3 linked regions of the Homo sapiens genome follow. The protein of the gene in region 2 interacts with the protein of the main gene of each other region in a biochemical or structural test. Each region holds a gene or a part of one and is shown on either strand. Other genes may lie near its edges. The genes, in order: MAPK9, DUSP19 and MAP2K7.

Region 1 (3,649 bases), on a different chromosome or scaffold from region 2:
TCAACAGTAATGCCTCAAAAAAAAATGAGGCACTAAAAAAGGTAAAATTGCTTGGAAGACTTCTAGTCTATTTATGATATGGATTTAGTTTAATTCAACACGTGGTTTAATAAAGATTTGTCATGTGATATTATATCAACTTTAGAATCAAAATAATTATGAAAAAGTTAACCAAAGAAGAGTTATTATGTTCCTCTTAATAATCACCTGACCTCAAAACGCAGACATCTGCCCAGATGTCATTAGAAACTCATCATCACAGGCTGTTTCCCAGAGACCCATTATGGACAAGGCACTGTGCTGGCAGCTATGGAAGGTACTGTTGTTTCTTAGAACAAATTTTACATTTTCTTCATGGGAGAACTCCCAAATCCAATGTCCAACTCATAAATGGACTGTTATAAAAGTCTGCTTATAAATTGGATTCTTTTTATATAAAACAATGTTTAAACTGATGGCAAAACCACAGGCCATGACATAAACATGTATTTCACTCATGGCATGAAGGAAGCCTGCCACTACGCAGTGATTTCCCTCACAGCTAAAGCTCACTCACACCAGTGCTGACACAGAAACACGCACGTGAGCACCAAACTCAGAGTGGAGCTCCTCCAGCGGGGGAACCAGGAGCTACAATGCCTTTAGGGAAGGATAAACAGACGTGTGATTTTTCAGCAAGTTGCTCAGCCTCTCTGGTTAAGTGGCCTAAACAAGAGGATGTAACCAAAGCCAATGGCACAGAATAGATGCTTAATAAACTATGAGCTCACAGCAGCATTTGCAAAATGGAGACTGGTAGCACCAAAGCGGAAGTTCATTCCCGAGGTACTCTGAGCTGGGGCTCCAGCAGCAAAAGAGCAAGCGACCCAGGTCTCAGACAACACTTGGCCTTTCTGTAACTGGGAGCCCCCAAATGGAGAACTTGCTACCCATATGTAGCCACTCTGGACGGACAGACAAGATCCAAGGAAATATAAGCCTGGCCTCTCTATATAAATCTTTTCAAAACAGATACTCACGGCTTCTGCTTCGGCGGGGTCATACCAAACAGTGATGTATGGGTGACGCAGAGCTTCGTCTACAGAGATCCGCTTGTCAGGATCAATCACTAACATTTTTGATAACAGATCTCTGGCTTGACTTGCTAGGGTGACAACAAATATTAAATTAATGCTGTTAATATGAAACAAACAGAATCATACAATAAAGAACTAAATATGACAACACAGATAGAACAAAGATATATTAATTTTGAGAAATGTTTGATAGGTTCAAGATGAATATAACCCAAAATTTTTTTTTTTTTTTTCGGAGACGGAGTCTCGCTCTGTCGCCCAATGCAGTGGCGCAATCTTGGCTCACTGCAAGTTCCACCTCCCGGGTTCACGCCATTCTCCTACCTCAGCCTCCCAAGCAGCTGGGACTACAGGCGTCTGCCACCATGCCCGGATAATTTTTTGTATTTTTTTAGTAGAGACAGGGTTTCACTGTGTTAGGCAGGATGGTCTCGATCTCTTGACCTCGTGATCCGCCTGCCTCAGCCTCCCAAAGTGCTGGGATTACAGGCGTGAGCCGCCGCACCCAGCCATAACCCAAACATTTTTAAGAAAAAGTCAAATGTCCACTTTCATGACAAACCAGGTTTCCAAATGTAGTTTTACGCCTCTGGATCTGCAAGGGGAAGAGAAACCTGGGCTCCCAGGGTGGTGGGGAAGAGCACCAGGCAGCCTCAGACCAATGTCTGGGCAGGGCCCAAGGCTGGGAAACCACAGCAAGGAAGGTGGCAATTGCCGAGCTGCGGGTGGCACTGCCCAGAGTGTGGGCATGAGGCACGGGGGAGTATTTTTCTCTAAGTCACATCGAAATGAAATTAGAACAGACTTTTCAAACCACACAACAATCTCACATTCCCACAGGATAAAACACTCACAGATGCTTCTGGCTGGCCTAGCTGTATACAGTGCTGGCAACTTACACTTTTTTTTTTAATCTACAGATTGGTATTTAGGAAAAAGAAAAACAAGTTCAATAACTTAGTTAAATATAAGGCTCACCTAGGTTTTGTCAATTAAAGTTCACAACCTGAATAAGCAAAGACTGGGGCTTTTCTGATTAAGGCACAGTTTACCTTCATGCGGACAGAATCAAATCTTTTCTTTTTCCTTAAACAATCACACTGTAGTAAAGGGTGCAGGAGAAGGTGGGGAGGAAGGACCTTTTTCATCGAACAACTGTCACATCGCTTCTGACTCTAGAATCTGCATTAAGTGTTCTTCTTACCTGAAAACTTTTTGAATTCCAGTTGCTGTAACTGTAACATAAGATTCTTTCAGACTGATTTGATTATTTTTATTTTGGCCAAAGGCTTCAATTAAGCCGTCTTATAGAGGATAAAGCTTCTAGACCTTTAAGCTTTCTCTCCTCAGTGCCTTCGTACCTCAGACTTCAGGCCTAAAATGACTTTCTCTCCCAAAACACAGGTTTTTAGAATACAAACATGAAAGAGTGAAAGCACCACCTGAATTACAAAACACAAGTATAAGAAAAAAAGGATATCTTACTTTTTATTTTGTCTCGCTCAGATTCTGATGGGAATATCCAATCTGGAAAGAGTTCTTCAAATTTGATTCCAGGATACTTTGGTCTGTTTTCGACATAATTCCTCACAGTTGGCTGAAGTTTCTTCATGAACTCTGCTGATGGTGTTCCCAGCTGCTCAATAACTTTATTCCACTGATCAATATCTAAGGAGTTTCTTGAGGAAAATACAACTGAAGTACCTTGTATTCACAGTACATGCGGCAGCATCACTTGAATAATATTTAAACCTATCGACTAGGCCACCCCACTGGATCAGCAGCGGAATTTTGAAATAATATTCAAATAAGGTTTGGGTTTCCAAGTTACACTATTTTTTAAAACTCTCACACTCTGCATCTTCATAAACTATGATCACAGTTTATTAAATCAACACAATGAAGTCTACACACCTTCCCACTCTAGTTCAAAATAAAGTTTATCTTATAACTAAGAATACCTATAGCAAAAATGATTAAACACGAAATTAGATAAACATTACATAAGCAAATTGAAATCAGTTTTCATACTAATGCTACCTTAGATTCATTCACAGCTCTCTAAAGAACAGAGGATCTCAAGGGACCTGTGGAGAGACCTATCTGACCTCCTCAGTTTACAGCTGGGAACCAAGCAACTGGGCTTAGACTGAGCCCAGCGACAGCTTTCAAATGATGCTCTATTTTACTTGGAACTGACTCTTCCCAACCATCACTGCGATCCCTAGGTAATGCATTTTATTTCCTTTCAAAGTGCGTGACCTGGGTTTCAGACTCAACTCTGCATTAAACACTCAGTGTGTCAGGAAAGTCAGGCTTCCTTGGGGTCTGTTTCCTTATTTGTTCAATGCAGACATTACCAGCTTTGCCTATTCCACAGGGTGCTTGTTAGGCTTGGGATAATTAGGATTACATGTGGGAAAGTGACACTGAAACTGTACTCGCTATACAAGAGAATGCAAGTGAGAAAAAAATAGCATCAACAGCAGCTTAAAAAAGTGCTCACTGAGGCATGTCTTAGAAAAATGAACTTACATCACCATGAAATAACCTAGGGAACTGGTACATGAACT
Region 2 (3,649 bases):
CCAATATTAGGCTTTGAATTAAAAAACCTCTCCCTTGGCCAGGTGCAGTGGCTCATGCCTGTAATCCTAGCACTTTGGGAGGCTGAGGCAGGTGGTCTGCCTGAGCTCAGGAGTTCAAGACCAGCCTGGGCAACACGGTGAAACCCTGTCTCTACTAAAATACAAAAAATTACCCGGGTGTGGCAGTGTGCTCCTATAGTCCCAACTACCTGGGAGGCTGAGGCAGGAGAATCACTTGAACCCGAGAGGCGGAGGTTGCAGTGAGCCGGAGGTTACAGTGCACCGAGATCACACTACTGCACTCCAGCCTGGCGACAGAGTGAGACTGCATCTCAAAAAAAAAAAAAACAAAAAAAAAAAACACAAAAAACAAAAAACAAAAAAAACCTCTTCCTTTGCTTCCATCCAAATACAGTCGTGCATCATTTAACAATGGTGATGCATTCTGAGAAATGTGTTGTTAGGCAGTTTCTTCGTGGTGTAAACATCACAGAGTGCACTCACACAAACCTAGAATGGTATGGCCTATTGCTCCAAGACTACAAACCTGTTCAGATGTTACTGTACTGACTTGTAGGCAACAGTAACACAATGGTATGTATTTGTGTATCTAAACATACATAAACATAGAAAAGGTATGGTAAAAATACATTATTATAATCTTATGGAACCACCATCATATATGCAGTCCAAACATCATTATGCAGTGCATGACTGTATCTGCTATTAAGTAAAGTTGATGAACAGTAGAATTGAATAGTTTTATATTTTCTGGGTAGTCTAGTAGGAAGGCACGTAGAACAGTGCTGGGCACCTAAGGCATTCAATAAATATTACTAAATGAAAGGAAAGAAGGGAGAGAGGAAGAGAAAATGGGAAGGAGAAAAGATAAAGGGAGAGAAGGTAGGCCAGAGTTCAATTAAACCTGATTGTAATCCTGTCATTGTTAGGTGTTCCAGAAGAGTTATTTCTCTCTGTAAATGCTTCTACTTTCCCATCTACGTATCTTACATAAAGTCTGTAAGAATTATTTGCTGACTAAAAATGATGACATTTCAAGGAATAATTGTTGATAACAGCCAACCTAGAAACTTTGCCTGTCAGAATGTTGACTTCAATAACAAGCCTGAAGTACTATATGACATTGGCTATTGGTCTTCTAACTTCAGAAAACCAACAGACAGTTTCTGATCAGCATTTTCATACAATCTAAGTAAAGCAATACACATTTAGTCCTTAGAGTGCCTTAAAATTTTACTGCTAAAAATGCATAGTTTCACAATAACTATCTCATTCATTAAAATCAAATGCATATTAATCATCATAAATACACTAACAAGTCTAGAGCAGTCTCTGTTTTATAGTCTGAATTAATGTTGAAACTAAACATCTCATTGAAAAAAGAGCAATTAACCAAATAATTGTAGGAAATAATGAAATATTGTTAGAAGGGAAATTTCATAATTGTTTTTTAGAGATTCATTATAAAAATAATAAAGATTGGGTAATGGATCCACACTTTCAAATTTCTGCTTCTGCAGAACTATGGATCAAAACAAAACTCACTTTTCTTTTTGCTTCTTCAATAAATTCAAAACATTCTGGAAAATAAGACAGGATGTTGGTTTCAGGCAGATCCAATATAGAAATGCTCTTATATGTAAAGTCACTGAGGAAAGCATTTTCAACTCCATATGCAACATTAAGAATATGAGTCACCTTAAAGAGAAAGAAAAAAGATGATTGTTTTAAATCCCATGAATTAGGTTACCTAAAAAGAGACTGGGGTGTTGATATCTATAACAAGAAAGGTAAAAAATTTAAATGCGACTCACTTGAATGATAATACTGCTTCAATCCCACACCAGAAGTGCTCCTTCTACTATATGTTTTCTCTCTCTCTCTCTCTCTTTTAACTTATTATTATCATCATGCAGAGACAGGGTCTCTTTCTGTCACCCAGGCTGGAGTGCAATGATGCAATCATAGGCCACTGCAATCTTGAACTCCTAGGCTCAGGTGATCCTCCTGCCTCAGCCTCCCAAGTAGCTGGGACTACAGGCGTGTACCACCACACCCAGCTAATTTTTTTTTTTTTTTTTTTTTTCAGAGAAGAGGGGGGCGGGTCTCACTTTTTTTGCCCAGGCTGGTCTCGAACTCCTGGCCTCAAGTGATGCTCCCACTTCCGCCTCCCACAGTGCTGGCATTACAGGTATAAGCCACCACACCTGGCCTATATATTTTCATAGCCCTGGACTTGCCCTATTATAGCTCATGCCATTTAGAGATTGTTTTTCTCTTTCACTGCACTAGAAACTCCATGAGGGTAGGGACCATGTTTAACTTAGTGTTATAAGCGAATGAGCAGTGAGTTTAGCAGAAAATGCTTAAAATCTTTGTTGAATTAATCTGTGAATATCCATATAAAAACTTAAATAGGAGAAGTGTATCAGTGGTATACAACTTCCCTTTCAAGAATTATTTCCCTATTTTCCTTCATATTCTTTACTTTATAAAATGGTTCTCCAGGATGACTGCACATTAGAGTCACCTGATGAACTCTTAAAAACTATCAATAACACAGGGTCTCATACCCAGAGATTCTGATGAACCAATCTGGCTGAAAAGTAAGGGGAGGTGTGGTTGTAAAATATTTTCTTTCAGATGGTACACTTGAGCAACCTCCTCCTCTTGCATCTATGTATTTGAGCCCCTTTTCCTAGAGTCCACCAACCATGTGGAAGAAAGCCAGGCAGACAGTCCATTAAGATAATCCAAAGGCTGAGAATCACTTGAACCCAGGAGGTAAAGGTTGCAGTGAGCCACGATCATGCCACTGCACTCCAGCCTGAGCAAATGAGCGAGACTCTGCCTCAAAAAAAAAAAAAAAAAAAAAAAAAAAAAAAAAAAACCTAACAACCTTGTCCACATCTGTACTTCCCCTCTGCCTTCTGATTACAATGAAGGATGTGCTCGTGCATCTTCGATAAGGCTCATTCCAGAACCTGTGCTTGGAGTCACAGTGCTTCCTACTTTCTTGGCATCTCCCTATAGTCATAATTCTTGCTTTTCTGTATCTTCAATTCCTTCTTCTACCATCAGCCTTAAAACATGCTCAAAGCTCTCCCCTCCCCCTCCTCACCTATGGCTCCTCTCTCTCTTTTTTTTTTTCCCTTTGCCATCACTTCCTCACTTCTCAATCTTTTGCAATATGGCTTTGGCCTCCAATTCAAATGAAACTGTTTCCACCAAACGCACTAACAACCTCTCTGTCACCAAGTCCCATGGATATAATTTAGTCCTAATCGTACTTAAACTTTTACAGCATCTGACATTGCTGACTCTCTCCTCCTTAAAACACTATTCTCTTTAGTTTCCATGACACCATCTTTTTGTTTTACCTTCTTTGGGCCTCTTTTAGATCCTCCTTTCCCACTGCGGACTCTTCTTTGTTTGATCATTCCATATAGGGTGATATTCCTCAATTTATCAGTTCTGTGATAAGATTCTGTCATAGGCCCTCTTCTCTCTTACTTTACACTTTTCCCCAGGCAGCTTCATCTATTCTAATGGTTTCAGTAACTACTTAAAAGCTGAAGATTCCTAAATCTATATATTCACCTCTATTCTGAACTTCAGACCCTACATA
Region 3 (3,649 bases), on a different chromosome or scaffold from region 2:
GGAAGATGCGCTTCCGGAAGACCGGCCACGTCATTGCCGTTAAGGTGAGCCTTGGCGGCTACCCCGGCTGCGCCCCACACCCCAGGCCGGTGCTGAGGCTCCCTCCTGTCCCTGCCTGTGCAGCAAATGCGGCGCTCCGGGAACAAGGAGGAGAACAAGCGCATCCTCATGGACCTGGATGTGGTGCTGAAGAGCCACGACTGCCCCTACATCGTGCAGTGCTTTGGGACGTTCATCACCAACGTGAGTACCTGGCCGCGCCCTGCAGCGTCTCCTCCTCCCTCACCCCTGCCCCTTCCTAGGGAGCAGAGCCTCTGGGGGGTGGGCCGGAAGACACAGCTCCCCCGGGTGCCCCTCTCCCTGCAGACGGACGTCTTCATCGCCATGGAGCTCATGGGCACCTGCGCTGAGAAGCTCAAGAAGCGGATGCAGGGCCCCATCCCCGAGCGCATTCTGGGCAAGATGACAGTGGCGGTGAGTGACCAGGCGGGGCTTGCACTGGGCAGGATGACAGAGGCGGTGAGTGACCAGGCGGGGCGTGCACTGGGCAAGATGACAGTGGCGGTGAGTGGCCAGGTGGGGCGTGCACCGGGCAGGTGGCCTTGGGTCTGTGCCCCCTGCCACATGCACCCCCCTCTGCGTGCCTGCAGATTGTGAAGGCGCTGTACTACCTGAAGGAGAAGCACGGTGTCATCCACCGCGACGTCAAGCCCTCCAACATCCTGCTGGACGAGCGGGGCCAGATCAAGCTCTGCGACTTCGGCATCAGCGGCCGCCTGGTGGACTCCAAAGCCAAGACGCGGAGCGCCGGCTGTGCCGCCTACATGGCAGTGAGTGGGGGCCCCCCAGCGGGGGAGGGGGTGGGGGCTGGGAGGCCGGCCCCAGCCTTGGAGATACGTCTTCTCCTCCCCCCCCTGCAGCCCGAGCGCATTGACCCCCCAGACCCCACCAAGCCGGACTATGACATCCGGGCCGACGTATGGAGCCTGGGCATCTCGTTGGTGAGTTGGGGCCCTCCCCTGTTCTCCAGCCAGGAGTGAGGGCTTCTGGGGGACTCGGAGGGAGGAGAACATAAACCTGTCCAGCCCTGCCCGTCTCCCTCCCAGGTGGAGCTGGCAACAGGACAGTTTCCCTACAAGAACTGCAAGACGGACTTTGAGGTCCTCACCAAAGTCCTACAGGAAGAGCCCCCGCTTCTGCCCGGACACATGGGCTTCTCGGGGGACTTCCAGTCCTTCGTCAAAGACTGGTGAGAACCTCCCTCCACTTGGGAGGTCAGGGACAGCCCGCTGCTCTGGGCAGCTGGGGAGGCAATGGCAGGAGGGGAATGGAGGCCGCACCCTGGGATGGGCGGATGCGACTGTGGGCGGGCTCCTGGCTGGCGGCTGCCACAGGAGCTGGAGCTGGTGCCCAGGGAGCCATGAGCTGGGTTTGGACCTAGCCTGAGGGGACAGCCAGCCCTGTGGCATTTGGCGGGGTGGCTGTTGGAGATTGTGAGCACGCTTCTGCAACAAGCACAGCTACAAGTTCAGGAGGGCCATGTTCGATTCTCTCAGGGGAGCCCCACCCACCTTTCTGGGGGACCTCAGCCAGCTCTGGCCCCCCAAGCCAGGCCCTTGCCACCTGGCCCTAGGCCAGGAGGCTCCGGGACTCACAGTTGCTCCCCGCTGTCAGCCGGGGTCCTGAGGACATCCACAGCTCCTTCCCCCACACACATCTTGGGGACCCCTGGCCCCTTGGGGAGGGCCTGAGCACAGGGGTGGGGCCGGCATCCCCTCCTCCCTCGTTCTCACATCTGTCTTCCCTTCTCTTGCTCTAGCCTTACTAAAGATCACAGGAAGAGACCAAAGTATAATAAGCTACTTGTGAGTACCTGAGCCCTCCCAGTCCCCGTCCTGTCCCTGCGGAGGCGCGAGGCCAGGAGGGAAGACCGTCTCCTCCTAAGCCCCACCCCCTCGGGCCCACAGGAACACAGCTTCATCAAGCGCTACGAGACGCTGGAGGTGGACGTGGCGTCCTGGTTCAAGGATGTCATGGCGAAGACTGAGTCACCGCGGACTAGCGGCGTCCTGAGCCAGCCCCACCTGCCCTTCTTCAGGTAGCTGCTTGGCGGCGGCCAGCCCCACAGGGGGCCAGGGGCATGGCCACAGGCCCCCCTCCCCACTTGGCCACCCAGCTGCCTGCCAGGGGAGACCTGGGACCTGGACGGCCACCTAGGACTGAGGACAGAGAGTGGGGGGTGCCCACCCACCCCCCCCGCCCCGGGCCTACCAAGCCCCCGCCCTTCCCACCCCGGGGTCAGCCGGCCGTGTGCGTCCCCCGACAGACACTGTGAACGGAAGACAGCAGGCCGCGATCAGAGTCGCTGTTCATTCAGCCGCAGCCTCTGGGCCGGGGCGGCCCCCAGGGGCCAGGAGAGAGCCCTGGAGTCCCGCAGCCACCATGCACGCTCCCAGCGTGCTGTGTCCTTCGCCACTCCCACGCGCCCGTTCCTCTTCCGTCGCCCTCTGTCCCCTGCTCTACCTCTCTGTCCTTGTCTGGCTCTCCCGTCACCCTCCCTGCCTCTGTCTCTCTTCTGGCCTGAGCCTGGGCCCAGCCACCTCCTGACGGGTCCCCTGGGTCTGCATAGGTCTCCCATGGCGCAATGAGTCAGTGGCCCCCAGCCAGGCAGTGTGGGCATTGCCACTGCGGCTGGACGGGGCTGCGCGCTCGCGCTCTCTCTCTCTCTCTCTCTCTCTCTTTGATCTCAGGGGGTCCTTTTTGGAGTTTATTGTATTTTATTGTACTTGGTGGGGTGTTTGGGGTGGGGGCGGAGGAGAGCTTGTTCTCGTGGGGTTGTCGGTACCTTCAGAAACTTTTACCAAAGTCACGATTAGCTGCTTGTGGTGGGGCCCCAACCGCCCTCGGGCACTGGGGAGCTGGGCTGGGGCTGCTGCTCTGGGGTCTCCGGGGGCCACAGCTTGGGGTGAGTTGAAGACCTCAGGGGATGTGGAGGGGTCTGCGGGGCCCTGGCCGCACAGGATGGCCTTCAGGGAAGGTGGTCTTGGGGCATGGTGCAGAGCAGGTGACCGGAGGGAATCGGTGACGGAGCGGGGCCAAGGGAGGGGTCCGGAGGGAGTCAGGGATGGAGGGCAGAGGGAGTGGATGTGGGGGTTTGAGGACGTGTGACAAGCTCCAGCAGGGGTGGGGGCCGGGCTGAGGGTGGGGGTGCGAGGTGGTCACTCCCATCGTGCCCCTGGCCGTCCCTCCACTCACCCACACCTGGCCCAGTCCACGTTGAGGTCCAGGACTGGGAAGGACCGGGTGAGTGCACCGGGGACCCAGGCCAGGTGCCCCCCGGAGCCTGCTGGGGTGGCCAGAGCAGGAGGGGGTGTGTTTCCTTTTTGTGGGTGTTGCATGCAAATCAAGTGGACAAGAAAAAATAACAAAACAAAAAACAAGAAAAAAAAAACACAAAACCCCGTAAAATCACAAAGAAAATCCAACACCAAAGGCGCAGAAGCCGGCTGGCCGTGGTGGGGGCAGCGTAGGCGTAGCATCCCTCTCCTCTCACTTAGCCTGTTGACTCTTGTTATTATCATGATATTCACAAAACGCCGCATGTTTAAAAAGTCATAGATGTCATCTTCTCTCTGCCCCCAGGGAGGAA

The links.
Region 1: of the proteins of DUSP19 (region 2) and MAPK9, one has a biochemical effect on the other in vitro, tested with the Homo sapiens proteins (one study listed by BioGRID).
Region 3: the proteins of DUSP19 (region 2) and MAP2K7 form a complex in vitro, tested with the Homo sapiens proteins (one study listed by BioGRID).

The regions. Positions count from the first base shown.
Region 1 is NC_000005.10:180,240,012-180,243,660, forward strand, and holds part of MAPK9 (mitogen-activated protein kinase 9), read right to left. Parts: intron 2,745-3,649; coding exon 2,562-2,744; intron 1,145-2,561; coding exon 1,020-1,144; intron 1-1,019. UniProt on the Homo sapiens protein: Serine/threonine-protein kinase involved in various processes such as cell proliferation, differentiation, migration, transformation and programmed cell death.
Region 2 is NC_000002.12:183,085,110-183,088,758, reverse strand, and holds part of DUSP19 (dual specificity protein phosphatase 19), read right to left. Parts: intron 1,720-3,649; coding exon 1,567-1,719; intron 1-1,566.
Region 3 is NC_000019.10:7,910,330-7,913,978, forward strand, and holds part of MAP2K7 (dual specificity mitogen-activated protein kinase kinase 7), read left to right. Parts: coding exon 1-44; intron 45-123; coding exon 124-243; intron 244-366; coding exon 367-474; intron 475-650; coding exon 651-830; intron 831-920; coding exon 921-1,001; intron 1,002-1,085; coding exon of another isoform or gene 1,086-1,106; coding exon 1,107-1,249; intron 1,250-1,819; coding exon 1,820-1,865; intron 1,866-1,967; coding exon 1,968-2,102; 3' UTR 2,103-3,649. UniProt on the Homo sapiens protein: Dual specificity protein kinase which acts as an essential component of the MAP kinase signal transduction pathway. Essential component of the stress-activated protein kinase/c-Jun N-terminal kinase (SAP/JNK) signaling pathway.